Linked DNA regions of Homo sapiens. The protein of the gene in region 1 purifies or fractionates together with the protein of each later gene. This does not show direct contact. Each region holds a gene or a part of one and is shown in the gene's direction. Other genes may lie near its edges. The genes, in order: FCGRT, ANTXR1, PCDH10 and TIMELESS.

Region 1 (7,024 bases):
CTCAAGTGATTCTCTCACTTTGGCCTCCCAGGGTGCTGGGATGACAGGTGTGAGCCACTGTGCTTGGCCTTCCTTGCCTTAATGTCCTCATCAGACCCACGCAGCAGCACTTGTCTCTACGCAGCCATCAGAGTCTACGCTCCAGCCACCCAACATAAGCAATCTCCTCCCTCTGGGCATTTGCTCATCCAGTTTCCCCTGGCACCTCTCTGTTCCACCCTTCCCCCTCTCTGCATATACTCCAGCCCTCCTTATTCTTCAAGGTCAGGGCTGGATATCACTTCCTCTGAGAAGCCTTTCCTCAGCTCTGTAGGGCAGAGTTCACTGTTTCCTCCCCGGAGGCCCCCAGATCCCCACTCATTCAACTGTTGGCCAAGAGCATTTGCACTGCCAGGCGCTGCTCTGGGCCTTGAGCAAAGAGGGAAGTGACACACATTCACCCTCTGTGGCTCCCAGGCTGCTGGACAAAGATAGATACCAGCTGGGGATGTGCACAGATATTCATTCCAAGTGCCACAAAGGAGAAGTTGAGACTCAACCAGGTAGTTTTTCTTTAATTGTCTTCTTTCTTTCCTAAGTAGGGAAAATTTCTTTCTTTTTTTGAGACAGAGTTTCGCTCTTGTCGCCCAGGCTGGAGTGCAATGGCGCGATCTCGGCTCACTGCAACCTCCGCCTCCCAGGTTCAAGTGATTCTCCTGCCTCAGCCTCCCGAGTAGCTGGGACTACAGGCGTGCACCACCACGCCTGGCTAATTTTTGTTTGTTTTTTTTTTTTTAGTAAAGACAGGGTTTTACCATGTTGGCCGGGATGGTCTCGATCTTTTGACCTCGTGATCTGCCTGCCTCGGCCTCCCAAAGTGCTGGAATTACAGACGTGAGCCACTGCTCCTGGCCTTTGTTGTTGTTGTTGTTGTTTTTGAGACAGACTCTTGCACTGTCGCCCAGACTGCAGTACTGTGGCGCAATCTTGGCTCACTGCAACCTCCGCCTCCCAGGTTCAAGCAATTCTCCTACCTCAGCCTCCCGAGTAGCTGGGATTACAGGCACACACCACCATGCCTGGCTAATTTTTGTATTTTTAGTAGAGACGGGGGCTTCACCATGCTGGCCAGGCTGGTCTCGAACTCCTGATCTCGTGATCTGCCTACCTTGGCCTCCCAAAGTGCTGGGATTACAGGCATGAGCCACCACTCCTGGCTTAAGGAGGGAAAGTTTCAAACCACACTTAAGTAGAAACAATAGTATAAAACGGACCAGACACGGTGGCTCACGCCTATAATCCCAGAACTTTGGGAGGCCGAGGCAGGTGGATTGCTTGATCCCAGGAGTTCAAGACCAGCCTGGGCAACATAGTAAGACCGCATCTCTACTAAAAACTCAAAAAATTAGCCTGGCATGGTGGTATGTGCCTCTAGTCCCAGCCACTGGGGAGGCTATGGCAGGAGGATCGCTTGAGCTCAGGAGTTTGAGGCTGTAGTGAACTGATTGCAACTCTGCACTCCAGCCCAGATGACAGAGCCAGACCCTGTCTCAAAAAGAAAAAAAATATGGTGGCCAGGTGCAGTGGCTCACGCCTGTAATTCCAACACTTTGGGAGGCCGAGGTGGGCAGATCACTTAAGGTCAGGAGTTTGAGATAAGCCTGGCCAACAGAGTGAAACCCCATCTCTACTAAACATACAAAAATTAGCCGGGTGCGGTGGTGGGTGCTTGTAATTCCAGCTATTCGGGAGGCTGAGGCAGGAGAATCACTTGATCCCGGGAAGCAGAGGTTGCAGTGAGCCGAGATCAAGCCACTGCACTCCAGCCTGGGCAACAAAGCAAGACTCTGTCTCAAAGAAAGAAGGAAAGAAAGAGAGAGGAGAGGGAGAGAGAAAGAGGAAGGAAAGGAAGGAAGGAAGGAAGGAAGCGAGCATCCCATCACTGAGACTTAATAATTATCAACCCATGGTTTTTTGAATTTCACGCACATCCTCACTCACTTCCCCACCCCACTTCACATCAAGCTTTGGTAAATCTCAGACATCACAGTGTTTTTTTCTTTGTTTGTTTGTATTTTGAGATGGAGTCTCACTCTGTCATGCGGGAGTGTAGTGGCTCAGTCTCGGCTCACTGCAAGCTTCGCCTCCCAGGTTCAAACAATTCTCCTGCCTCAGCCTCCTGAGTAGCTGGGATTACAGGTGCCCGCCACCTCGCCCAGCCAATTTTTGTATTTTTAGTAGAGATGAGGTTTCACCATATTGGCCAGGCTGGTCTTGAACTCCTGACCTCGTGATCCACCCACCTTGGCCTCCCAAAGTGCTGGGATTACAGGCATAAGCCACCGCGCCTGGCCAATTTTTGTATTTTTAGTAGAGACGGGATTTCACTATGTTGGCCAGGCTGGTCTCGAACCCTCCACCTCAAGTGATCTGCCCTCCTCAGCCTCCCAAAGTGCGGGAGTCACCGTGCCCAGCCAGACTGTTTTGTTGATAAGTCCTTTAGTATGTAACTCTACTAGGTAAGGGCATTTAAAAAAAATTAATACCAAAACCATCATCACACCTACAACCAATTAACTCTTTAATGGCATCAGATGTCCAGTTTTTGTTCCCATATTCCTGACTGTAAATGTTTTTTAAAGTTTGAATCAGCATCCAGCAAGGTCCACACATTTTGTTGTCTTTTCAGTGTCTTTTTCTGATTGTTGAATTTTTCTTTCTTTCTTTTTTTTTTTTTTTTTCCTTTTTGAGACAGGGTCTTGCTCTGTCACCAGACTGGAGTCCAGTGGTGCAATCATAGCTCACTGCAGTCTGAACTTCCTGGGCTCAAGTAATTCTCCCACTTCAGCCTCCCCAGTAGGTAGGACCACAGGTGCACGCCATCAGGCCTAGCTATTTTTGTTTGTTTGTTTTTTGAGACAAAGTCTTACTCTGTCGCCCAGACTGGAGTGCAGAGGCACGAACTCGGCTCACTGCAACTTCTGCCTCCCGGGTTCAAGCAATTCTCCTGCCTCAGCGTCCCAAGTAGCTGGGATTACAGGCGCAAGCCACCACGCCCTGCTAATTTTTTGTATCTTTAGTAGAGACAGAGTTTCACCATGTTGGCCAGGCTGGTTTCGAACTCCCGACCCCAGGTGATCCACCCACCTCGGCCTCCCAAAGTGCTGGGATTACAGGCGTGAGCCACCGCGCTCGGCCGTATTTTTGTTTTTTTCTTTTTTTTGGAGACGGAGTCTCGCTCTGTCACCCAGGCTGGGGTGCAGTGGCGCGATCTCAGCTCATTGCAACCTCCACCTCCCAAGTTGCACCAATTCTCCTGCCTCAGCCTCCCGAGTGGCTGGGACTACAGGCGCCCACCACCACGCCCGGCTAATTTTTTGTATTTTTAGTAGAGACAGAGTTTCACTGTGTTAGGCAGGATGGTCTCGATCTCCTGACCTCCTGATCCGCCTGCCTCAGCCTCCCAAAGTACTGGGATTACAGGCTTGAGCCACCGCGCCCGGCCGGATTCCAATTTTTTACCAGATAGGTGTTTTGCAAATATTTCTTCCACTCTCTAGGTTGTCTTTTCATTGTTTTAACTGTGCCTTTCACAAAGCAAAAGTTTTTAACTTTGATGAAATCCAGTTTATTCTTTTTTTTTTTTCTATCGTGGATTATGCTTTTGGTGTTTAATCTCAGAAGTAATCACCAAACCCAAAGTCAGCTAGATCTTCTCCTGTGTATTTTAAGAGTTTTAAAGTTTTGCATTTTACAGTTAGGTCTGTGATTCATTTTCAGGTAATTTGAGTTACTTGTGATCTTGAGTGTCTTTTGATTTACAGGTTTCCCATTTTCTTTTTGTTTTTTTTCCCCCTGTAATTGTGGTTTGAAGAAAGTCAGTTTATGTCCTATTGAGTTTCTCCTAGACTGGATTTTGCCCTTTGCATCCTGTGATGTTGCTGGAAATAGTCCTCCTTCTCTTCTTTAAAGGAGCAGCTCCATCTAGAAGCTTGGTCAGATTCTGGTTCAATTTTTATGGCAAGAAAACTTTCTGGGTAGTTGGTGCGTATGTCTGTGTGCATAGGCTGCAAACATCTGCTTGCTTCTGTGCTGTTCTGTGGACCACTGGATTCGGGTGTTGTTATGAAGTTCTTTGTCAGGTTTTCTCCTGATGGTTTTAGCGGATAGCAATGGCCATTGCCTTAATCTTTTTTTTTTTTTTTTTTTTTTGAGATGGAGTCTTGCTCTGTCGCCCAGGCTGGAGTGCAGTGTTGCGATCTTGGCTCACTGCAACCTCCGCCTCCCAGGTTCAAGCGATTCTGCTGCCTCAGCCTCCTGAGTAGCTGGGATTACAGGTGCGTGCCACCATGCCTGGCTAATTTTTGTATTTTTTTTGGAGAGATGGGGTTTCACTATGTTGGGCAGGCTGGTCTTGAACTCCTGACCTTGTGATCCACTTGCCTCGGCCTCCCAAAGTGCTGGGATTACAGGCGTGAGCCACCGCGCCCGGGCTTTTTTTTTTTTTTTTTTGAGAGGGCGTCTCCCTCTGTCACCAGGCTGGAGTGCAGTAGCACGATCTCGGCTCACTGCAACCTCCACCTCCCAGGTTCAAGTGATCCTCCTGCCTCAGCCTCCTTAGTAGCTGGAATTACAGGCACACACCACCACACCCAGCTAATTTTTGTATTTTTAGTACAGACAGGGTTTCACCATGTTGGCCAGGATGGATTTTTTTTTTTTTTTTGAGATGGAGTTTCACTCTTATTGCGCAGGCTGGAGTACAATGGCATGATCTCAGCTCACTGCAACCTCCGCCTCCTGGATTCAAGTGATCCTCCTGCCTCAGCCTCCAGGGTAGCTGGGACTACAGGCATGCGCTGCCATGCCTAGCTAATTTTTATATGTTTAGTAGAGATGGAGTTTCACCATGTTGGCGAAGCTGGTCTTGAACTCCTGACATCAGGTGATCTGCCTGCCTCAGCCTCCCAAAGTGCTGGGGTTACAGACGTGAGCCACCATGCCTGACCTGGTTTGGTATTTTGTTAAACAGAACCAAAGGCCAGACAGATTTTCTGTGCTTGGATTTAGTCTATATTGGAAGTACCTTGAGGCTGAAGGCACGTGGCTGTGAGCACGACACAGGAAGATACAGATTTGCTGAAAAGAATAGTGAACATAAAGCAGAAGCCAGAACTGCTGATGGCCGTCAGCCCGGTCCCTCCATTCCACCTGACGGTGCAGCAAATTCTGCCGACTTGCCAGAGAGGCAGCTCCAGGAGGGAGAAGCTGCTGTGCTTTCCTGAAGCAGCAAATGTGTTTTCTGCTGAGCAACCAAAACCAAGATCCCAGCCAAGACCCACGATTGCCCAGATCCACCCTCCCTGAAAGGAACTTGGGCAGTAATGCCCAGTCCTAGGCAGTTGCTGAAATCTTTGCCTTTTATTTTCTTTTTTGAGCTGGGATCTTGCTCTGTCGCCCAGACTGGAGTGGAGTGCAGTGGCACAGTCATAGCGCCATGTAGCCTTGGACTCCCAAGCTCAAGAGATCCTCCCGCCTCAGCCTTACAAGTAGCTGGGACTATAGGTACACGTCACCATGCCTGGCTAACATTTTCTATTTTTTGTAGAGATGGGGTATTTGTTGCCAAGGCTGGTCTAGAAGTCCTGGGCTTGGCCGGGCACAGTGACTCACGCCTGTAATCCCAGCACTTTGGGAGGCTGAGGCAGGCGGATCACGAGGTCAGGAGTTCAAGACCAGCCTGGCCAATATGGTGAAACCCTGTTTCTACTAAAAATAGAAAAATTAGCTGGGCGTGGTGGTGTGCGCCTGTAATCCCAGCTACTCTGGAGGCTGAGGCAGGAGAATCGCTTGACCCCAGGAGGCGGAGGTTGCAGTGACCCAAGATTGTGCCACTGTACTCCAGCCTGGGCGACAGAGACTCCGTCTCAAAAAAAAAAAAAAAAAAAGGAAAAGAAAGCCTGGGCGTAAGGATCCTTCTGCCTTGACCTCCCAAGTGCTGGAATTGCAGGCATGAGCCATTGCACCCGGCTTTTTTTTTTTTTTTTCTTTGAGACAGGCACTTGCACTGTTGCCTAGACTGGAGTGCAGTAGCGGGATTAGAGTTCACTGCAGCCTCAACCTCCCAAGCTCAAGCGATCCTCCCACCTTACCCTTCCTGAATGGATGGGGCCACAGGTGTGTACCATCACACGTAGTTAATTTTTAAACTTTTTCAGAGACGGGGTTTCTCCATGTTGCCCAGGCTGGTCTTGAACTCCCGGCTTCCAGTGATCCTCCTGCCTCAGCTTCCCAAAGTGCTGGGATTACAGGCATGAACCACTGCACCCAACCTTTTTTCATTCCCTTAACGAAACCTTTGGATGAACAAAAATTCTTAATTTCAGTGAAGTTCAGTTTATCGACTTCAATTTATACATTTTATAAAGTTTATGAATTTTTTTTTTTTTTTTTAGACGGAGTCTTGCTCTGTCGCCCAGGCTGGAGTGCAGTGGCTATACCCAGGTGTGATCATAACTCACTCCAGCCTCAAACTCCTGGGCTCAAGGATTCCTCCTGCCTCAGTCTCCAGAGTAGGTGGGACCACAGGCACATCCACCACACTGGCTAATTTTTTTTATTTGTAGTGGAGACTACGTCTTACTGTTTGCCCAGGCTGGTCTCCAACTCCTGGGTTCAAGTGATCCACCTCATTCTCCCAAAGCGCTGGGATTGTAGGAGTGAGCCACTGCACCCAGCCTGTCTGCTAATATTATGTTTAAGAGTTCTGAATCTTTTTTTAAATTTTTTAAAATTTTTAATTTTTTATTTTTTTTGAGACAGTCTTGCTCTGTCGCCCAGGCTGGAGTGCAATGGTGCAATCTTGGCTCAATGCAACCTCCGCCTTCTGGGTTCAAGCGATTCTCCTGCCTTAGCCTCCTGAGTAGCTGGGATTACAGGTACACGCCACCATGCCTGGCTAATTTTTTTGTATTTTTAGTAGAGATGGGATTTCACCATGTTGGTCAGGCTGGTCTCGACCTCCTGACCTCGTGATCCTCCTGCC
Region 2 (7,024 bases), on another chromosome or scaffold:
CTAGCCATATGTGACTCGAGCACTTGAAATGTAGTTAGTGCGATTGAGGAAGTGAATTTTTAATTTTATATAAGTTTAACTAATTTGAACTTTAATAGCCACATGTGGCTACCATACCGGATAGTGCAGACAAGAAGATAATTTGGCGACACATATAAAATGCTTTTAAAAAATGAGGGGTGTTCCTTTCCATCGAGCAATTTCATGTCCTAAAGAAAAAAAATCCAAATAGTCACAAAGAAGTACCTACATGTATGTTTATGGAGGTGCTGTTTATAATAAAAAGCTGAGGATTACATGTGTCTAACAGCAGTGGATTTACTAAGGTATGATATGTGTATAGTATTGAACCTGCATTGCATGTTATACAAGCTTGTAAGCTATTTTAGGAGAAATACATAATTCTTAACATACTATACACTTTTAGATGGAAATGCAATTACCAAACGTCATCTGCGTTATGATTCCACCTGTTTAAAAAGTTAAACACACACATGTGTATGTCTCTATTTACCAATATGGTACTACTATTTGTCTCTAGCAGGTAGAATTTTAAATTTTGTTTACATGTTTTTCTTAATTTTTCTGTACTGAACATACATTACTTTTATATTCAACAAAAATAAGTTATTTTGAATTTGTTTTGAAAATCATGTCAAGTGGGTCTCTAAACAGTGTGCTCACTTCCAAGCCCCTTGCTGTTGTAAAGGATGCTGCTGCTTTTATATTTAATCCTGGAGTAAATGTCTGAGTGCATCATAGGATTCTATGAAGCACATTGGAGACCCAAAAATGCTCCAGGAAAAGAAATGGTGGGGAGACCTTTACAGACATTCAGGTGGATGCCTCTGACTTCCTTTAGCTGTTCTGTTGCTGGAAGAGAAGGATATTTTTGTGCTGAATGAAAAACTTGCTAGAACTTGGTGCGGTAGTGCACACTCCACCAGCTTACCACCTCCATCCAGGCTAATTTATGAGATTGATGAGTCCAGAGCTAGGGGATGGGCCAAAACGCAGTGGTGGCAAACAGACCCCTGGGTGGTCGCTAAAGACATGATCTTCTGTCCTAGAGAGAACCTCCTCACACAGTGCTGTCCAGCACCCAACCACAGCCAGAGTGGAAAGTGAAAAAATGCTGACTCATTTTTTCCTTGGGCTTCTTAGATCCTTTCGCTGGCAAGACACTGTCTACAGTCTGAAACCGAGGGATCATAGGGGACTGAATCCACCATTCTTCTCCCAATCCCTGCAACTCCTTCTTCCCCTGCAACTGGTTCTCTTTTCCCATGACATTAAATCTCAGCTCATTTCAGCTTTAAGCAAGCTGCATCTCTGGCCTGGAGGGAACCCAGATTATACATTTAATGGAACGTCATGTTTTCTCAACCAGGAGCAAAGACTTCATAATGATAACCTAGAAAATACCACAGTAACACAATAGGGCATTATTAGTGGCTTTGGCGACTGGGCTGGTGGACTGGGCTGCACAAGGCTTTATACTGATGGAATTTCATGTTCACTTAAACATGCTTTTCTGGTTATAGTCAGGAAAAATAGATTGCTGGGAATTCAGTCGGGGATTTGAAAAGTTAGATTTGGAAGGCTCTGTTCAACAAAAAGCAAAGAAACAGCTAGCCTCTTTTAAGTCTTCCAGGGGATCTTCCAAGATGAATGCACCCATTTGACCAACCCACAGACATAACTACCTTCCCTCTCTCACAGCACCCCCCCACCCTCTCTTATTACGTATATGTTTATGTATTACATATTGGACTATTTTACATGGAGCTATTAGTCACTTGAATGGAGATAGTGGATTCTGCATCATGAATCTCAAGTGGCTGGCTATGTTATGTGTGCCCTGAAGACTTCAAAAATAGAATGTGGGAAAGAGAGCAGGAGGAGTGGAGATGGTGGTCTGGAAGGCAGGAGTAAACGCTGAGCAGCTTTATTTATAGGACTTGCCAAAGCCACAGCCTGTCATTCATTTTCTGCACCTAATAAATCCTTATATGTCTAAAGGCCCCCCACAGGCTCACCATGTGCTCCTTCCCCGTAAGACCTCCGACTCCCCCTGCCATTTCCCTTCTGTTCGGCACCAGTTTTCTTTTTCTTCCACTGTACAAAGGGATTCCATGTTGCCACTCCCCCAGAGTTCCAACCACAGCACCCACACCTGGATGATGCCCTGCTGGTGCTGATTTGCAGGACCACTGTTATGTGTTGTACTCCAGGGACAGGATCATCAGATAGATTTTTGTAGCATTAGGCTGGAAATTTCCCCATCAGGTATAGTACTGGCTTTTTTCTGGGAAAATATCTTCTGAGTTCCCAACTACTAACTTACAAAAGAAATACTGGATTGGGAACTTGTGTGAGTCTTGCAGACTCATGCTCTCTCACAAGGGTCCCAAAGACAACCTTGTTTGGTAGGTAGGGCGAAGCATGACTGTCCCTAATTTGAAGATAAGAAAACCTTTGTTCAGTCCACTGGGTTAAGTGACTTGCCCAAGGACCTAGGATTAGATCACGACAGAGCTAGGACAGTGTCTGCCCTTGACTCCCAGACCAGCTCTTTCCACTCATCTTCCCTGTAGAGTTGGGCCATAATGAGAAGCACATGGCAATACAACTAGAGGAACTGGGTAGATTCCAGGAATTCAAAATCCCCGCATCAGAGTTTCAGTAAATCATGGTGCATAAGGCGATTAAAGTTACTTAATTGAGGAGCTACTACTCTGCTGTTAAATCAGCTGTAGTTGATGGAAAGTATCAGGAACTCCAACCCCCTGCAACCCAGAGAAATGCTCCAGAGATCTAGGGGGTTAATTGATGAGTCAGACTTTAAGGTGTGTTCAGGACATTTTATTATGATAAATTCGTAATTTGTTCAGACTGAATCTGATAGAAAAAGGAAACTGAAGTCTGTAAATATGCTAAAACACACAGATGTAGCTTATTTTCAGAAATACATTGGAAGATGGCTTAGTGTCTGCAAAATTGGCTCTGAATAAGGAAAGCAAAGAGTTCAATAGAAGGCACCTTGAAGGTGCTACAATCAGATATTTTTTATATTTTTGGATTTTAATTCGTATAAGTCTTGTATATTTATTGTTAATTTCATTCCTAAGTATTTGATCATTTTGGTTATTGTAATGGGAAATTTTCTTCCATTTTAACTTGTTTGCTCTTAGACATATAAAGAGTATAAGTATCTGTGTTGATTTTGTTGTGAATTATTTTACTGTTTCAAATAATTTCCTAGTTGATTCTCTTGGGTTTTCTGGATATATAATTATATAACCTGCAAATAACAATTTTATCTCCTCTTTTCTCATTTCATACTCTAATTTCTTTTTTTCAACTTTTAAGTTCAGGGGTACATACAAACCTGCGCATCCTGCATATGTACCCCTGAACTTAAAATAAAAGATGTTAAAAAAAAGAAATTACATAAGAATGTGTCATGGAGTTTTGTTGTACAGATTATTTCATCACCGAGGTATCAAGCCTAGTACCCATTAGTTATTTTTCCTGATCCTCTCCCTCCTGTCACCTTCCACCCTCCGACAGGCCCCAGTGTCTGTTGTTCCCCTCTATGTGTCCATGTGTTCTCATTGTTTAGCTCCCACTTAACAAGTGAGAACATGCGGTATTTGGTTTTCTGTTTGTGCATTAGTTTTCTAAGGATAACAGCCTCCAGCTCCACCCATGTTCCTGCAAAGAACATCATCTCCTTTTTTATAGCTACATAAAATGCCATGGTGTATATATACCACATTTGCTTTGTCTAATTTATCATTGATGTGCATTTAGGTTGATTTCATGTCTTTGCTATTGTGAATAGTGCTGCAGTGAACATATGCATGCATGTATCTTTATAATAGAACAATTTATATTCCTTTGGGTATATTCTCAGTAAAGTGATTGGTGGGTCGAATGGTATTTCTGTCTTTAGGTCTTTGAGGAATTGCCACACTATCTTTTACAATAATAATTTTAAAGGGCATCAGAAAAATAGTTATCAGGGGCCAGGAATTTCTTTTATTATTATTATTTTTGTATTGAGGTGGACTTAATGCTTGGTTTTAAATGCTCCTCTAATTAAGTTCCACATTTGGAGAAGGCCTTTGAGGCCAGGCAAGAGTTGGTAGAACTGCCTGCAAATTGGATAGTTTGGCATATGGGTCAAAAATAAAAATAAATAAGGCAAAACTGTTTTGTTTTGTTTTGTTTTGTTTTGTTTTGTGTTTCTGTCTGGGTCAGCCAAGTAACTACCTCTACTTTATTTAGCTGTGGAGACCTGGTTAAACTCAGTGTCAAGGAGTGTTGGAGGAAGGCACCTGTCCCAAGATAACCTGTAATTATGTCCAAATGCTAAAGGATTCCTAGTGGTCCAGAAACAAATTCTGGGATCAATTAGGGAGACTTGGCTGTCACATAAATGCAAATGGGATTTGCTCTATGCTAATTTAGAATGTGTGTCTATGTTTGGTATGCGGCCAAGAGACTGGATCTTGCCTCTCCCCCTGATTACTCTGCAATAAAAGACAAAGAGAATATTTAAACATTTGTTGACACGTTTTTCAGACACGTCAGGTTCATACTGAAAAAGTAATTAGATTTCTCCAATTTGACTCAGCAGATTCTTCCATTCATTTGGCATAGATGACATACTCAGTTTTGATCACAAGTGTGTACTCCAATACATGCGTGGATGAAACAATGCCTATTGCAAGCAATGTCCTGCTATGGGAGGTAAAAGGAATGCAAAATAAACAGGAAGAAGTCCCAGGCTGTCAGGTTTTTATGGAGAAAAGTTAGAGGACTCTAGGCAGCCAGAGCTAAAGGCTTCAGTGAGGATTTGGGAAAGGGGCCAAGTAAAGTCAATTTTAGATCAGTAAGAAATAAGAAGTAACATTTACTGAACCCTTGCTACCTGCCAGACGCTATAGTAAACACTTTGCCTGTATGACCCTGTTTAGTGTTTACAACCCCCATAAGGTCTGTACAGTCATCATTACCATTTCACACGTGAGGAGACCGAGGTTTAGAGAGGTTACCCAAGGTCACTCTGAATGGTGAAACTAAGTCTCAAACCCAAGCCCCTCTGACTCATAATCTATGCACAAAGTTAAAAAGAATCTAAATATGCAAAAGAACATTGAATCAATCAAGGTAGGTCAGGTTATGCTGTGATAACAAATAACCCCCGAATCTCAGTTACACAAAACAACAAAAGTTTTATTCTCTGCATATACTACATGTCTGATAGGAGTCAGCAGGGCTCTTCTTATGGTGATGGTTCTGGGAGCCAGGCTGGTGGAGATTCCTTCCTGATACCTCCTGCCACCATCAAGGCTGCGAGGGAAGAGAATGCTAGATGATGTCTTGCTGGCCATGAAATGCTCCAGCCAGAAGTGACGTGCATCCTTCTCCTCACAGCCTGTTGGTCAGAACTGGTCAGATAGCCTCACTTTATGGAAAAAGACTTGAAGAATAATCCTCCATGTGCCTAGATGGAAGGGAAAGCCAGATATGGGTGGACAATAAAAGCTTCTACTGAAAACGTATAATTATAGCTTGCTTTGGCTTGAATAAGCAAGAAAGAAGTAGCCATTGAGAGAGAATAAAGAGATAAGACTTCTGGAGAAAGGTCAGTTTTGAGCCAAGTCTTGGATATACAGCATTCATCAACCTAGAATTACTGTCAGACGTGATGTTTCAAATATGCCCAAGAGGCAATGATAGCTCCTTCTCTTTTCCTCCCTTCCCCATTCTCTGCATACTTTAGATGAAATATTCAGTGAGGTGGGCGGGGGATTAAATTAGATTAAATGGAAAGTAGAAATGGAGATTAGACATGCTCTCCTGCCACCTAAGTATTACATGAATATATTTGAAAGATAAAACTCTCTTTTTCCATAGTTTATGGAATACGAGGGAATTTGAAAGGCTGGGGAAAGACAGCAGCCCATGGAACACAGACCACTGCAGCAGCAGAGCTCAGAGGATGCCTGTACACTGCAGGGGCTGATTCTGAGTTTGAATCAAGAGTATCTGGGCTCCTACTAGTGCTTCTCAATGAGGGTGCTGTTAGCATTTTTGATGGGACGGTGTTTCATTGTGATGGACTGTGGGATGCTTTAGCATTCCTCATCCTTGCTTTCTAAATACCATTAGCCTTTCTGGTCATTGTGATGACCAATAAATAACAGCCTCTATACTTATTTCTAAGGTTGGTACCACCTTGGTTGAGAACTCCTGACTAAAAGAAGGCAGGGCAGAGCAGGGTATGCCATTGATGTTGATTCCTAGCATCCAAGAACCACATCTGGGCATTTGTCTGAAGGAAGAAATTGGGAAGCTTCCATGATAAAAGCTCCAGTGGAAATTGTAGACCTTGGGAATGAATATGCTAAACTGAGGTTCTCAACCAAGGGCCAGATCACAACTTCAGAGGCCTGAGGCAGACGTGTATTTTGGAAAAGCTTCCCAGGTGATTCTGATTCAGGTCCCTCCCTCAGTGAGTCATAAGACTGAACAGGAAGACAAGAAAAGTTGCCCCATAATGATGGCTCATGGTTATGGCCTTATGATGAGGATATAGCTGAGGCAGCACACACCTTGGAGCTGGGCTATAGGCAGAGCTCTTATTTTAGATGGTGGCAGAAGAAACCACACACAATATGAAGGCAGAAGAGCAAAGGTCACTGAGAGGCCATGTTTTGCCCTTCAGTGTTGCCAGGTCCTGCTGTGTGTACATATACATTTAAGCCATGTTGTTTACTAGCCAGGACACTCCTTTGCTTCCTTTCTCATAAGTCTCCCTACATGAAATGTGCCTCATGGGAATGCTTAACACAGGGCTTAAGAAGGCCACCTTCGGAATCAGGCATCTGCAGCTTTAAATATCAGCTCAATGCTTCAGCAAGCATTGTGACCTTGGGCAAATTATTTAGCCTCTCCGAACTTCAGTATTGTTAATAAAATAGGCATTAAAATGTCTGCCTCACAAAAGTGT
Region 3 (7,509 bases), on another chromosome or scaffold:
TTCAATGTCTGTCATCAACCCACCTCCCCAAAACCAAAAGAAAATATATGCACACACACACATATATATATGCATATGTATACACACACACACACACACACACACACACTTTGGAATCAGTATCACAAACCAGTGCCCAATTTAAAAACATTCCTGGACCTCTTATTGATCAATTTCTCTTACAGAAAGGAGCAGAGTATAGTATCTGAACTGAAACAGTATTATTAGAAAATGATATTGTGAGCATTAGGATGTATAATTCATGTTGCTTTCATTTGCTCAGACCATTGTAAAAATCCATAAATCATTTTTTGTTCATGTATTGCTTAAGTGCAATTTGTCATTTTGCATTAGAGGGCTGCTTCAGCTCATTCAGTGCTTTTAATTCACTGTTTAGAGTTTAACAAAATGTTGTCCCTGCTTGATAACTGAAAAGGCACTGAAATGTGAAGCCACCCCAATATTAACTAGGTTAAACAAAATGGAGAAGCACATTTCTACTTTCAATATCAAGATAATGGTGCTTGATGGGATATCTAGTATTTTCAATCCCAAGAACAAGGATTGGTTTGTTCTCTGATGGGCTTGAAGGATTAAAACACAGTAACTAAAGAGTTACCTGAATACTTAAAATTGCATATGCTATAAATCTTTCCCAGAAATTCCAGTCAGCATTCACTTTTTACTATAGATGAACAAAAACTAACACAATGTTTGTGGCATTGGTTCCAAAGCCTTGTCTTCCCACCTCTTAAGTTAGATTACACTACCACAAATAAACCTATTTCATGCTTACCCATAAAAGATGCAATGCACTTTGGGTCTTTTGTATTTGTTCTCTGAGCTGTGCTTGCTGAGAATGACAAGTGCCAGGAACAACCATCTAGGTCAATCCTGGTGGAGCCTGGTTATTGATAAAGTAATTTTTCCTTCCAATTCTAAAAAAAAAAAAAAAAAAAACTTCCCTCAAAGCTCTGGGCACATAGCAATAATAAGAGGATTTAGAAACAAATTGCTTTCAAGTCATGTTAAATCACTGCAAACACTCATTTATCCAAAGGCTGGTTAACAAACTTGTTTCTGCCCCACCCTTTGCAGCAAAGGGCAGAGAAGAAAGCAATCCCTTAACCCAGTTTCAAAGTTTGTAAAACACACTTGTGGGATCCTTAGCGCCCCCCTGTTTCTGCTGCACTTAAAGCCCAATGAAATAAAAAATGTGCACTATCACTCTAATATATAAACCAGGACTTTTATGAAAACTGATTTTGATAACCTCCCTCCAAATAATAAAACTATTCCTCTGTTTCTTAGGGTGCAGTTTGTCCTGGCTCAAACAGTTTGCGCTCCTAGGGGGTGGACGGGGGAGGGTGAAGAAGGGATTACGTACAAAATATTTCCTTCTCCTTTTCCGCTCCAGTAACGGGGGGATTGAGGAACACAGAATATACATGATGCTCTACACTTCAAAGAGGTAGTCAGCCTCATTACTGAGGCTGCCGTATATACAAACCTCATCTCACTAAATTCTGGGGTCCACGGGAGTAAGAATGAAAAAGAAAAACGAAAGGCAGGGATCTGTTTGATTGACACAGCAAGGGAAAAAGTAAACCTGTTACATTTTAGAGGCATTTTAAAAGGCAAATTTAAAGTGTTGTTTTGTTTTGTGGGTGACGGGGCATGGTTGTTTTAAAGGCTCTAGGGTAAAGGGGCATAGAAGGCTATTAATGCCACTATCTGATCTTGGCTCCAAACAAAATGCTCTTGGAATTGCCCTTGGCTGGAGCTATCTAGCGGGAGGCGGAGGACCAGGCTCTGTTCTGTTCGGCCGGGAAGAAGACCCTACCGTCACTCCGCCGGTCCCTGGCTGGCGCCACAAAGACTAGAAGTCGGAGAGGCGAGACCTCTAGGGGGCCTGGGCTCAGCGACGCTGGTGCGGACACAGACCCCTATGACCCAAGAAATCTTGTAGAGCCCCCAAAAGGCGAGCTCTCCAAAGCAAAATTCTCTGGCCTGCCCTATGCTGATTTCGCCGCTAGGAGACGCCTGTAACCCACGTTTGCGGAGAGAGTTCCATTCAAACACATCTGCTACCAAAAATAAAAATAAAAAATAAAAAAAAATAAAAGCAGCTCAAGTGTTACAGTGGATGTAGTGATTATTTACAGGCAAATCTGGCCATCTCATCTCCACCTCTGGAAGCTCTCTGGCTTTCAGCATATGCCCCAAGTCAGCTCAAACTTCATCTACATTTCAGGGGTAGAAACCCTCTTCCCCAGTTTCTGGATCTGCATTGTCATTCAGCTGCATGTCTCCCACATGCAAACACGCGCGCACTCGCGCGCACACACACAAGTGTTTCCATACGTACAAATGAACGCATTAGAAAATTACCGTCATTTTTTAAAAGGCTCCAGGATTCTGACGAGTCAGCTTGAAGAGCTCAAAACATTTCATTTCAATTCTGCAGATCTGAAGAAAAAGAAAGGGGGGAGGGGTGGAAGTACAGATGCAATACCGTATTAATATTCAGATACACTATAATCTCCTTTTCATTGATCCACAGGTCCCTTTATACACTGCCGCTCCATTCTCAGCCGCAGACGTGATGCTAAAATCATTTTAACTGCAGCGGTTTTCGCTTGGCTTTGGCCAGTCTTCAATTTACTGCAGCTGGAAAAGGATTAGCCATTTTTGCTGGAATCCTTTCCTTCTAAGCGCTCAAAGGCAGGACCCATCTTCATGAAAGAGCCAAGTGCGGGGGCCGGGGGGACCCGGCGTTGCGGGGAGTTGGGGCGCGGAAATCAGGGCAGTAGACGTGCATTCGCGGGACTCTCAGAAGCACGTCTCAGGCTACTATCACGCCCATGGACACTAGCCCTCCTTAACTCCTTGCCAGGAGGAAATGGCAACGTATCTCCAGGTCGGAAAACGACTCTACTTTTCCCGCAGGTTGTGGTGGTGTATTCTTGGGTCATTCATTACCAGAAAGCAGCAAAGGACCTTCCTATCTCTTTGCATAAAAAGGAGATTGAATAGGGGCTTCTTTCGTGAATAAACAACCAATTCCTTGCTAGTGGCCCATTAATTAAAAATATATATTTATAGATCTTTCCTTAGAGAACTGGCATTCTATCCACTCTCCAGCATTAAAGAGTTCGCGCTGTGTTTTAACTTCACAAGAACTAGCTATGTGGATGTGCCGCGTTGCCCCTGCGCCTCCGGAAGGGGCACTCACAGCTGGTCAAGCGCGTCCTTCGGAACTCGGGGAGGCTCCGTTGGGGCTTACACAGAGCTAAGCCCTGGGCCAGGGAGGATGGATGCAAGTACCGTGCATGTGCAAACGTGTTCGCAGATACCCGCAGCGGTGCACACTCGGGCCCCTCGTGTGCACGGGCCCTGCCCACCACCCCGCCCGCGTTCGCCGCCGCCCCACTGTCCTCATCCCGCGGGCTGACCCCAGGATTGGCAGAAATCAGTGGTCTAATCTAGCATGGTGGGTAAAGGGATCGATCTCCAATTGCCAAAAAAAAAATAGAAAATAGCCGGTGTTCCCAGCCGCTGCGTGGCACTTGGCCGCACAAGGCGCAGGGATATCAGAGGCGCTTTGCAGCGCTTGGCGGTGCTGTGTGCCGGATGCCCCAGAGCCCGGCGTTAGGATGGCGGGCTTGTAGGAAGCGGCTCAAATCAACTCCTCAGTCACTGATGAACGCGCTCACGGCTCGAAGCTAGGTCCTCGAGTGAGTTAATCTACTTGGTAAGTATTTTGTGAATATGTATTTTGGGAGGAAAGAAGCACGTCGAACGCGTCTGCCCGTCTGTAAGCGCTGTCATCCCCACATCCTTTAGCGTGAATTCCTCCGCTTTTTAGGAGTCACCTCCACCCCCTACTCCGTATGCTTCGCGCCTTTCCTCACGGCCCCGTCAGACCCCCTCACCTTTAGATTGACACATGCCATATAATACTCACTTTTAAAATGCCCTGCCAGTCTCTGCTAGGGTCCCTTAATTAGGTAACCCTTGCCAATTAGTGGGCCCTGCGCTACTTTTTCCCTTCTCGATGATTTATTTCCATGATGCGTATTAGGGAAAATACCTTAAAGGAAAAAGAATGTTAGCATCATTGGAAATCCCGCTCCTAGGAGAGGATATCGCAGCTGTTGCTATTATGTTTTCGCATTTGCTGATGCAAACAGGGGAACCTCTCTATTCCCTCCCCATTACCTGCGGCTGGGGACTGGGAACTTTCCGCGGCATTGTCCCCAGCCAGCGCCTCGGGACCTGCGGGGCTGTTCTCGCTCTCACACTCACACTCACCCCGGCCGCTCGGGCGAGAGTTCTGTCCCGCCCCGCCCGGCTGCCGCGTGACGTGTCTGTTTGGCGGCCAGTTTGGCCAATCATCGGCAGCTCGGTGGGTGGTGCTCCTGGGCGATTGGTTGGCAGAATGAGGGCGCTGCGCAAAAACGGAGAAGCCGAGCGCTCGGAGCTCAGAAACTGCCAGCCCAGACCACAGGCTCAGAGGCTGAAGCAGGAGGAAGGAAGGACTGGAAGGAAAAAGAGACAGGTTAGAGGGAAAGAGGCTTGGGAAGAAAACAGCAGAAAAGAAACTGCTCATTACACTTACAGAGAGGCAAGTAACGGTGGAGATGAGGACAGAGGGAACCAAGACTCTGAAAGACAAAAAATACAAATAGAGCGAAAGAGGAAAAAAATGTCAAGAAGAACATCCATCCGGAGAAATGAAGAGAATGAAAGTTTTAAGCTGCAGAGCCGTTCTGTGCTTTTCCGGCACAAAATTATATCGCTGATTTTAAGCCCTTTTGCATTTGCCAGCCGTTGACATTAAGAGGCATGTTTAACGGTGCCAACAGCATCTCCTTTTCCTTCTCCTCTTCCTCTTCTTCTTCTTCCTCCTCCTCCTCCTCTTTTTCCTCCTCCTCGTTCTCCTCCCATCAGCAAGAAGACAAACCGAGGACAGTCTTGAAATATCGAAATTTCCTCTTTGGGATTTGCCAGCGCCAAGACTGTCGGAATAAAGGACGCTGACTATTGTATTATTGTTATTTTATTAATTAGTCAGTGGAAAGATTACAGATGAGGAAAGGGGACGCCTGTCACCCTTCCTGTGCTAAGATTTAAAAAAAAATGAGGCTGGATTGCGGGAAGCTCTAAAATGAAGCAAAAGGAGTAAGATTTTTAAAGACAGAAAGCCACAGGAGCCCCCACGTAGCGCACTTTTATTTGTATTTTTTCAGATTTTTTTTTGTTTCGTGGTGGTGGGGGAGGTGATTGGGTGGCTGACTGGCTGCGGGAAGCTACTTCCTTTCCTTTTGGAGATGATTGTGCTATTATTGTTTGCCTTGCTCTGGATGGTGGAAGGAGTCTTTTCCCAGCTTCACTACACGGTACAGGAGGAGCAGGAACATGGCACTTTCGTGGGGAATATCGCTGAAGATCTGGGTCTGGACATTACAAAACTTTCGGCTCGCGGGTTTCAGACGGTGCCCAACTCAAGGACCCCTTACTTAGACCTCAACCTGGAGACAGGGGTGCTGTACGTGAACGAGAAAATAGACCGCGAACAAATCTGCAAACAGAGCCCCTCCTGTGTCCTGCACCTGGAGGTCTTTCTGGAGAACCCCCTGGAGCTGTTCCAGGTGGAGATCGAGGTGCTGGACATTAATGACAACCCCCCCTCTTTCCCGGAGCCAGACCTGACGGTGGAAATCTCTGAGAGCGCCACGCCAGGCACTCGCTTCCCCTTGGAGAGCGCATTCGACCCAGACGTGGGCACCAACTCCTTGCGCGACTACGAGATCACCCCCAACAGCTACTTCTCCCTGGACGTGCAGACCCAGGGGGATGGCAACCGATTCGCTGAGCTGGTGCTGGAGAAGCCACTGGACCGAGAGCAGCAAGCGGTGCACCGCTACGTGCTGACCGCGGTGGACGGAGGAGGTGGGGGAGGAGTAGGAGAAGGAGGGGGAGGTGGCGGGGGAGCAGGCCTGCCCCCCCAGCAGCAGCGCACCGGCACGGCCCTACTCACCATCCGAGTGCTGGACTCCAATGACAATGTGCCCGCTTTCGACCAACCCGTCTACACTGTGTCCCTACCAGAGAACTCTCCCCCAGGCACTCTCGTGATCCAGCTCAACGCCACCGACCCGGACGAGGGCCAGAACGGTGAGGTCGTGTACTCCTTCAGCAGCCACATTTCGCCCCGGGCGCGGGAGCTTTTCGGACTCTCGCCGCGCACTGGCAGACTGGAGGTAAGCGGCGAGTTGGACTATGAAGAGAGCCCAGTGTACCAAGTGTACGTGCAAGCCAAGGACCTGGGCCCCAACGCCGTGCCTGCGCACTGCAAGGTGCTAGTGCGAGTACTGGATGCTAATGACAACGCGCCAGAGATCAGCTTCAGCACCGTGAAGGAAGCGGTGAGTGAGGGCGCGGCGCCCGGCACTGTGGTGGCCCTTTTCAGCGTGACTGACCGCGACTCAGAGGAGAATGGGCAGGTGCAGTGCGAGCTACTGGGAGACGTGCCTTTCCGCCTCAAGTCTTCCTTTAAGAATTACTACACCATCGTTACCGAAGCCCCCCTGGACCGAGAGGCGGGGGACTCCTACACCCTGACTGTAGTGGCTCGGGACCGGGGCGAGCCTGCGCTCTCCACCAGTAAGTCGATCCAGGTACAAGTGTCGGATGTGAACGACAACGCGCCGCGTTTCAGCCAGCCGGTCTACGACGTGTATGTGACTGAAAACAACGTGCCTGGCGCCTACATCTACGCGGTGAGCGCCACCGACCGGGATGAGGGCGCCAACGCCCAGCTTGCCTACTCTATCCTCGAGTGCCAGATCCAGGGCATGAGCGTCTTCACCTACGTTTCTATCAACTCTGAGAACGGCTACTTGTACGCCCTGCGCTCCTTCGACTATGAGCAGCTGAAGGACTTCAGTTTTCAGGTGGAAGCCCGGGACGCTGGCAGCCCCCAGGCGCTGGCTGGTAACGCCACTGTCAACATCCTCATAGTGGATCAAAATGACAACGCCCCTGCCATCGTGGCGCCTCTACCAGGGCGCAACGGGACTCCAGCGCGTGAGGTGCTGCCCCGCTCGGCGGAGCCGGGTTACCTGCTCACCCGCGTGGCCGCCGTGGACGCGGACGACGGCGAGAACGCCCGGCTCACTTACAGCATCGTGCGTGGCAACGAAATGAACCTCTTTCGCATGGACTGGCGCACCGGGGAGCTGCGCACAGCACGCCGAGTCCCGGCCAAGCGCGACCCCCAGCGGCCTTATGAGCTGGTGATCGAGGTGCGCGACCATGGGCAGCCGCCCCTTTCCTCCACCGCCACCCTGGTGGTTCAGCTGGTGGATGGCGCCGTGGAGCCCCAGGGCGGGGGCGGGAGCGGAGGCGGAGGGTCAGGAGAGCACCAGCGCCCCAGTCGCTCTGGCGGCGGGGAAACCTCGCTAGACCTCACCCTCATCCTCATCATCGCGTTGGGCTCGGTGT
Region 4 (7,024 bases), on another chromosome or scaffold:
TGGGTCAGGAGTTTTGCCATGACATCTTATGCTCACTCACATTATAGCTTTTATCCACACTCTAGTGTAATTACCTTTCTACTTCCTGTCTCCACCACTAGAGTAAAAGCTCCTCAAAGGGAAGGAAATATGCTGTTCACTATTGCTTTCTATTACCGATGGATAGCAGATAATGGGCACTCTGTGAATGTCCAGTTAATTAGTTTTGTAATAGAAAAGACACTGATGGGGAAAGCCCTCTTTAGCTCTCTTGACATCCTAATACAATTCTTTCCCCACAGAACAAACAAAAGAAGAGAAGGAAGAAGAAGAAGAAGGTCCTAGACCAGGCCATTGTTTCTGGTAATGTCCCATCTAGCCCAGAAGAAGTGGAGGCTGTGTGGCCAGCCCTGGCTGAGCAGCTACAGTGCTGTGCCCAGGTAGGTGGTTACAGAAACCCTGTCTTTTTTGAGAATAGTGCTCAGGGTATACAATCTGGGTTTTCCACTCCCTCCGCTCCCATAGCTTTATCCATCTCTAGAATTCTGAGCTCAGCATGGACTCCGTGGTTCCCTTTGATGCGGCCTCAGAGGTGCCAGTGGAGGAGCAGCGGGCAGAAGCTATGGTACGGATCCAAGACTGTCTCCTGGCTGGCCAGGCCCCACAGGCCCTGACTCTCCTGAGGTCTGCTCGGTAAGAACCCTGCCTGCTCATCCTCTTGGGCTTTGGGGGAAGGAGGAGGCCATCACTGCGGTACAGTGTTCTCAGTCTTCAAAAGAGAGTTGTCTCATCAAGGCTCTGGGACTGTATACCAACTGACTCCTGGGGCGTTTTGATTGGTTTGTTGGGTTTTTTTGTTTCTGAAAAACATTAAAAAAGCATAGTTAATTGAGAAAAAAATAAAGAAAGCAAATCCTCACTTGACATCATCAATAAGTCCTTGGTAATTGCAGCTTTGAGTAAAATGACCTACGGCATGTTTCTTATAACGTTAAGAGAAAAAAAACTGGTTTTGTTATACATTGTTTCACTTAAAGTGGCAGTATCCAAGAACCTATTGAAGACATTAAGGGCGGACTTAACTTTAATTCTAGTAGCCAAAGATATGCATCATTAACATTTTGATGAGTAACCATCCAGAGGTTTTTTTGCTCCGTTACATGTAAAAATATCGTATATACCTTGTTTTACAAAAATGAAATACTGTACATGCTGATTTATAGTAATTTTTCACTTCTCAGTATATTATGAGCATGATTTCTCATCAGATATATTTCTGTAATTGTTAATGGCTTTAAAACACCATTGTGTGAATATGTACATTTGTTCAACCAGGTGTCAAACATTTAGATTGTTTGCATTTTGTTCTTAGCTGGTTTTTATTGAATTGTGGCTTATGAGGAAAATTTTCCCTGGAGTCTTTGTTTCATTTGAGGTAACAGTTTGCATTCTGTTTCTGGCCAACAAAAGAAATAAGTCTAAATTCCTTCTTCTACTTCGAATTATAAATTTAAAGCCAGATTTCCCCTGGGTAAAGCCTTTTTTCTATCTGTGCTCCAGGGAGGTGTGGCCTGAAGGAGATGTGTTTGGCTCTCAAGACATTTCTCCAGAGGAAGAGATCCAGTTGCTGAAACAAATCCTCTCTGCTCCACTTCCCCGTGAGTCTCCACCCTTCACATCTGTCTCCTTCCAGCTCTTTTCTAGCACCAACATAACAGAGACTCAGTAATCCTCCCTCTGTCTATAGGGCAGCAGGGCCCAGAGGAACGTGGGGCAGAGGAAGAAGAAGAGGAGGAGGAGGAGGAAGAGGAGGAGTTGCAAGTGGTCCAGGTGTCGGAGAAAGAATTTAATTTTCTGGACTACCTGAAACGGTGCGGGCTGAGAGGCCTGAGTTGGTCCTAGAGTGGCGATTGTGCGGCTGTGAGGATGAGCTATGTCTTCCTTATGCTGACATCCTCTCCCTCCTTGTTTTGGTGCAGCTTTGCATGTTCAACTGTCGTTCGAGCCTATGTGCTGCTACTAAGGAGCTACCAGCAGAATAGTGCCCACACTAACCATTGCATTGTGAAGATGCTGCACCGGCTGGCCCATGACCTCAAAATGGAAGCCCTACTTTTTCAGCTGTCAGTCTTCTGCCTCTTCAATCGTCTGCTTAGTGACCCTGCTGCTGGAGCCTACAAAGTGAGGGGATAACAAGGAATGGGGTTCTGGAAGGGTATGGGAACCCTCAGGTAAATAAATAATCTTCAGGAGATAGAAGGTGCTGAGAGGTGTCAAGGGCTGGGAGATGGGAAAACAATGAGAAAGTAGACAGGCAGGTTGAGGGAGCTGCATGGAGAAGGACAGAAGAGAGTGAGTGAGGAGGGGGCAGCTGGGAACAGCTATAGAGAAAATACCTAGAGGGCCAGGTTCGGGTCTGCATTGGACCAGAGAGGCCTCATAGTAACCTCCTTCTCCTACAGGAGCTAGTGACTTTTGCCAAATACATCCTGGGCAAATTTTTTGCACTGGCTGCAGTCAACCAAAAAGCCTTTGTGGAGCTGTTGTTCTGGAAGAACACAGCTGTGGTTCGAGAGATGACTGAGGGCTATGGCTCCCTGGATGACAGGTGAGCTTGAAGTTGGCAAAGGGTGGGTGGGGGTAGGGGAAGTTTGATGCAGAGTCACAGAATGTCAAAGCTGTTAAGAGCTTGCATGTCATTTAGCCCACTGTTTCTTTCCCTATTATGGGTGAGAGAACAGGCTCAGGAGGTGAAATGCTTTACCTAAAGTTATCCAAGAGAGGAGCAGGGACTGGAGCCTAAGTCTAGTGTGTATCTAGTTTCCTTCTCCATCACCAGCCTCCATAGAGGTAGTCACTGTTGGGAGCTGGGTGGTTGCCCAGAGGGAGTCTGTGTGCGACCTCTCCCAAAATGTGCTGGGAAACCATGAGGATTTGTAGAAATGTTTGTCCTCTTTCCCTTAGTATCTCAGCCCCTCTCCTTTCACACTTAGTCTCTTTTTCCCATAATATTCTCAGTCCCTAGAGTCAGAATGGTCAGGGTTCCATTGGCCCAACCTGGAAAATCTCTTAGTTTGACTTTTAGGTTCTTACGTGGAAGGAAAGTGAGGGGAAGGAGGCACACTGTAGGCCTCTGCTGGCTGGCCTCTTTCAGTTACCTGCCTTGTCCTTCCTGTTCTTTTCAGAACTGATCAGAGAAGGCCTTTGGTCTCCTCTTTTTGGGCCAAGAACCTATATGCTCCCTTTCTCCTTTCACCATTCAGGTCTTCCAGTCGCAGAGCACCTACATGGAGCCCCGAAGAAGAGGCTCATCTTCGGGAGCTGTACCTCGCCAATAAGGACGTGGAAGGTGAGAGGCCTTGGGATCTGGAGAGTTTATGAGGAGGGCAGCTTGAGCTGTGGGACCTTCTTTACTGCCTTAGTCCTTCCCCACGCCAGGGCAGGATGTGGTGGAAGCCATCTTGGCCCACCTGAATACTGTTCCTCGAACACGCAAGCAGATCATCCACCATCTGGTACAGATGGGACTGGCTGACAGTGTCAAGGACTTCCAAAGGTAGAGAGGCACATGCTCTGGAGGCTATTGGGATGGGGACTCGTGATCACTTCCTGGGCTTCCTCTTCCACTGACACCTTCCTAATCAGGAAAGGAACCCATATTGTACTGTGGACGGGGGATCAGGAGTTGGAGCTGCAGCGGCTTTTTGAGGAATTCCGGGACTCAGATGGTGAGTAAGCTGGAAACTCAGGGGACCTTTGAGATGAAAGCCAAGCTATCCATTTATTTTGGGGCTGCCTTTTATTCCCAAGGAAAGATTCTCCCATCCCTTCTGTTCACTTACTATATTTGTAAGTGTCATTTTTGGATGAATTGAGGTACCCTCTTTCCAGAGACCTCTGATTTATTTTACTCATCTCTTTCCCTGTTACCCTTGGGTATTCACATGCTTGCTTTTTATAGATGTCCTGGGTCATATCATGAAGAATATCACAGCCAAACGCTCACGGGCCCGAATAGTGGATAAACTCTTGGCTCTGGGGCTGGTGGCTGAGCGGCGGGAGCTGTACAAGAAACGGCAGAAAAAGTTGGCATCCTCCATCTTGGTAACAATCTGACCCTAGCTCTGCTGGCATGGGCTCACTTCCCTTGAAGTGGTCCTTAGGAGCAGTCCACCTGGATTCTTCCTGCCTGAGGCTGTTCTGACCAGGTCCTTCCGAGAGAGCAGGCGCGGGGGGGTGCGGTGGTCAGGAACGAGGAGACTCCACTAAGTTCCTTGTGTTGCCTTCATTTTCATTCCCCCAACCCCCAATGAATTTTAGCCAAATGGAGCGGAGTCCCTGAAAGATTTTTGCCAGGAAGATCTGGAAGAAGAGGAAAACCTGCCTGAGGAAGACAGCGAAGAGGAAGAAGAAGGGGGCTCAGAAGCAGAACAAGTCCAGGGTAGCTTAGTCCTTTCAAATGAAAACCTTGGTCAAAGCCTGCATCAGGAAGGTGAGGACTTTGGCTGGGAGAGATGTCTCAGGTGGAGGGCTTGGGAGTAGGGTCAAATGTAAGTTTCCCTCATTTCCTTAGGCTTTTCTATCCCGCTCCTATGGCTCCAGAACTGCCTGATCCGAGCAGCTGATGATCGGGAAGAGGATGGTGAGTGGACAGGTGACACTTTTAGGAGAAGAGCCCTGGAGGCTATTGGAGACCTACCTGGTCATGGGATGGAGAACCAGTTCTTCCCTTATATCTTCACCATATGACTATTGACCCTGTCTTAGGCTGCTCCCAGGCCGTTCCATTGGTGCCACTCACAGAGGAAAATGAGGAAGCCATGGAAAACGAACAGTTTCAGCAGCTGTTGCGCAAGCTAGGGGTTCGGCCCCCTGCCTCTGGGCAGGTAAATATGTCAGTTACAGTGTCAACCAAGGCGTGTTAGTCCTATTTCCAAATACATCTCCTCCTCCTCCTCACTGTCATGGTGGTCCTCCTTATCCTTATCGTCATCTTGGTCCTTCTCATTGTCTTGTCATCTCTGACCAAGATTCCTGCAGCAGCCATTCTGCTAGTCTTCTTTTCCTCTCTCTAATCTCCCCTTCCCCTAGATCCATCTTCCAGACTGCCTCCAGATTTATCTTTTTAAAATATAGTCTTGATTACAGTTGTCCCTTAGTGTCTGAGAGGGGATTGGTTCCAGGACCCCCCTGCCCACAGATACCAAAATCTATAGATGCTGAAGTCCCTTTTTGTAGTATTTGTAAATAACCTAGGTACAACCTGTATACTTCGTCATTTCTAGATTACATATAATACCTATACAATGTAAATGTTAGGTAAATAATTGTTATACTGTATTGTAAATATATATATATACATTTTATTTATATATATATATATACACACACACACACACACACACATATATATATATATATATATTTTTTTTTTTTTTTTTTTTTTTTGAGACAGAGTCTCACTCCATCACCCAGGCTGGAGTGCAGTGGCTCAGTCTCAGCTCACTGTCGCCTCAACCTCCCAGACTCAGGTGATCCTCCCACCTCAGCCTCCTGAGTAGCTGGGACTACAGGCCTATATTACCACTCCCAGCTAATTTTTTGTATTTTTTGTAGAGATGGGGTTATGCCATGTTGCCCAGGCTGTGTATTATTGTTTAATGTTGTATTGTTATTTTTTTTTAATATTGTCGATCTACAGTGGTTTGAATCCACAGACTCAGAACTTGTGGATATGGAGGGTCAAGTCCTCTGTCCAGAGCCATTGATGGTTCCTTACTGCTTGCAGGACAGAATCCACAAACTCCAAATGGCATCCCCATCCTTGGCCAACCTTTGCAGCCTCACAGCCACACCACTCACACACCGACTTTACATCATAGTCACCCTGGTAGGCTTTTTCATGCCTCCAAATGGTTAATCATGCCAGTCCCTCTATTGGAAGGCTGCAACCGTGCACACAGGGTGACACACACACACACACACACACACACACTCCATCTGTCTTACTGATGGACCTCTACCCAGTCTTCAAGAGTCTGCTCAATTGTCACCTTGTCAGAGAAGCAGTCCTTGTCATTCTTTCAACCCCTGAAGTAAAAATAATCACTTTTGCAGCTGTGATTTGTTCATGCCCCTGATGCAGCCTTAATCCTGTGGAATCTGCTGGGTATGGTGGCTCACGCCTGTAACCCCAGCACTTTGGGAGGCTGAGGCAGGCGGATCACCTGAGGTCAGGAGTTCAAGACCAGCCTGGCCAACATGGCAAAACCCTGTCTCTACTAAAAATACAAAAATTAGCCCGGTGTGGTGGTAGGCACCTGTAGTCCCACCTACTTGGGAGGCTGAGGCAGGAGAATTGCTTGAACCCAGGAGGGTGAGCCTTTATTGCTTTGCCACGGCACTCTAGCCTGGGCAACAGAGTGAGACTCTGCCTCAAAAAGAAAAAAAAAAAAATCCTGTGATACTACAGTACATTTGTTCTTTTTCCCATTGGATTGTGAGTTATTTGATAGCAAGGATCATACCTGATTCACCTTTACATCCCCAGGATTTATTTATTTATTTATTTATTCAATTGACAACTATAGCCAGGTGTAGTGGCTCATGCCTGTAATCCCAGCACTTTGGGAGGCTGAGGTGGGAGGATCGTTTGAGACTGGCCTGGGCAACACAGCAAGACCCTGTCTCTACAAAAAATTTTAAGTAGTTGGGCATCATGGTGGCATGCACCCCTGTGGTCCTGGCTACTTGAGAGGCTGAGGCAGGAGGATAGCTTGATCCCAAGAGATCGAGACTACAGTGGACCATGATTGTGCCACTGCACTTCAGCCTGAGTGACAGAGGCAGACCCCTTCTCATTTAAAAAAAAAAAAAAAAAAAGAACAACCAAAAAAACCTATAACTGGGAACCTCCTAATGTAGCAGGCACTGTGCTAGGCACTGGGTATATATTAGATAGTAAGTATTATAATAAATAGAGTTCACAACCCTTGTGGATCTTCACCAATATTGGGTCATATATATTCAATGAATATCATACTCT

Evidence for each region.
Region 2: the proteins of FCGRT (region 1) and ANTXR1 purify together in Homo sapiens (affinity purification with mass spectrometry; 2 studies listed by BioGRID and IntAct, with this or other methods). This does not show direct contact.
Region 3: the proteins of FCGRT (region 1) and PCDH10 purify together in Homo sapiens (affinity purification with mass spectrometry; 2 studies listed by BioGRID and IntAct, with this or other methods). This does not show direct contact.
Region 4: the proteins of FCGRT (region 1) and TIMELESS purify together in Homo sapiens (affinity purification with mass spectrometry; 2 studies listed by BioGRID and IntAct, with this or other methods). This does not show direct contact.

What each region holds. Positions count from the first base shown.
Region 1 is NC_000019.10:49,515,658-49,522,681, forward strand, and holds part of FCGRT (IgG receptor FcRn large subunit p51 isoform 1 precursor), read left to right. Parts: intron 1-456; coding exon of another isoform or gene 457-542; intron 543-6,037; coding exon of another isoform or gene 6,038-6,156; intron 6,157-7,024. UniProt on the Homo sapiens protein: Cell surface receptor that transfers passive humoral immunity from the mother to the newborn. Binds to the Fc region of monomeric immunoglobulin gamma and mediates its selective uptake from milk.
Region 2 is NC_000002.12:69,016,179-69,023,202, forward strand, and holds part of ANTXR1 (anthrax toxin receptor 1 isoform 1 precursor), read left to right. Parts: intron 1-7,024. UniProt on the Homo sapiens protein: Plays a role in cell attachment and migration. Interacts with extracellular matrix proteins and with the actin cytoskeleton and thereby plays an important role in normal extracellular matrix (ECM) homeostasis.
Region 3 is NC_000004.12:133,144,808-133,152,316, forward strand, and holds the start of PCDH10 (protocadherin-10 isoform 1 precursor), read left to right. Parts: upstream 1-4,486; 5' UTR 4,487-5,333; coding exon 5,334-7,509.
Region 4 is NC_000012.12:56,418,410-56,425,433, reverse strand, and holds part of TIMELESS (protein timeless homolog), read left to right. Parts: intron 1-281; coding exon 282-419; intron 420-520; coding exon 521-672; intron 673-1,539; coding exon 1,540-1,637; intron 1,638-1,726; coding exon 1,727-1,850; intron 1,851-1,958; coding exon 1,959-2,160; intron 2,161-2,441; coding exon 2,442-2,587; intron 2,588-3,242; coding exon 3,243-3,328; intron 3,329-3,417; coding exon 3,418-3,535; intron 3,536-3,624; coding exon 3,625-3,707; intron 3,708-3,940; coding exon 3,941-4,083; intron 4,084-4,299; coding exon 4,300-4,471; intron 4,472-4,552; coding exon 4,553-4,621; intron 4,622-4,746; coding exon 4,747-4,865; intron 4,866-7,024. UniProt on the Homo sapiens protein: Plays an important role in the control of DNA replication, maintenance of replication fork stability, maintenance of genome stability throughout normal DNA replication, DNA repair and in the regulation of the circadian clock.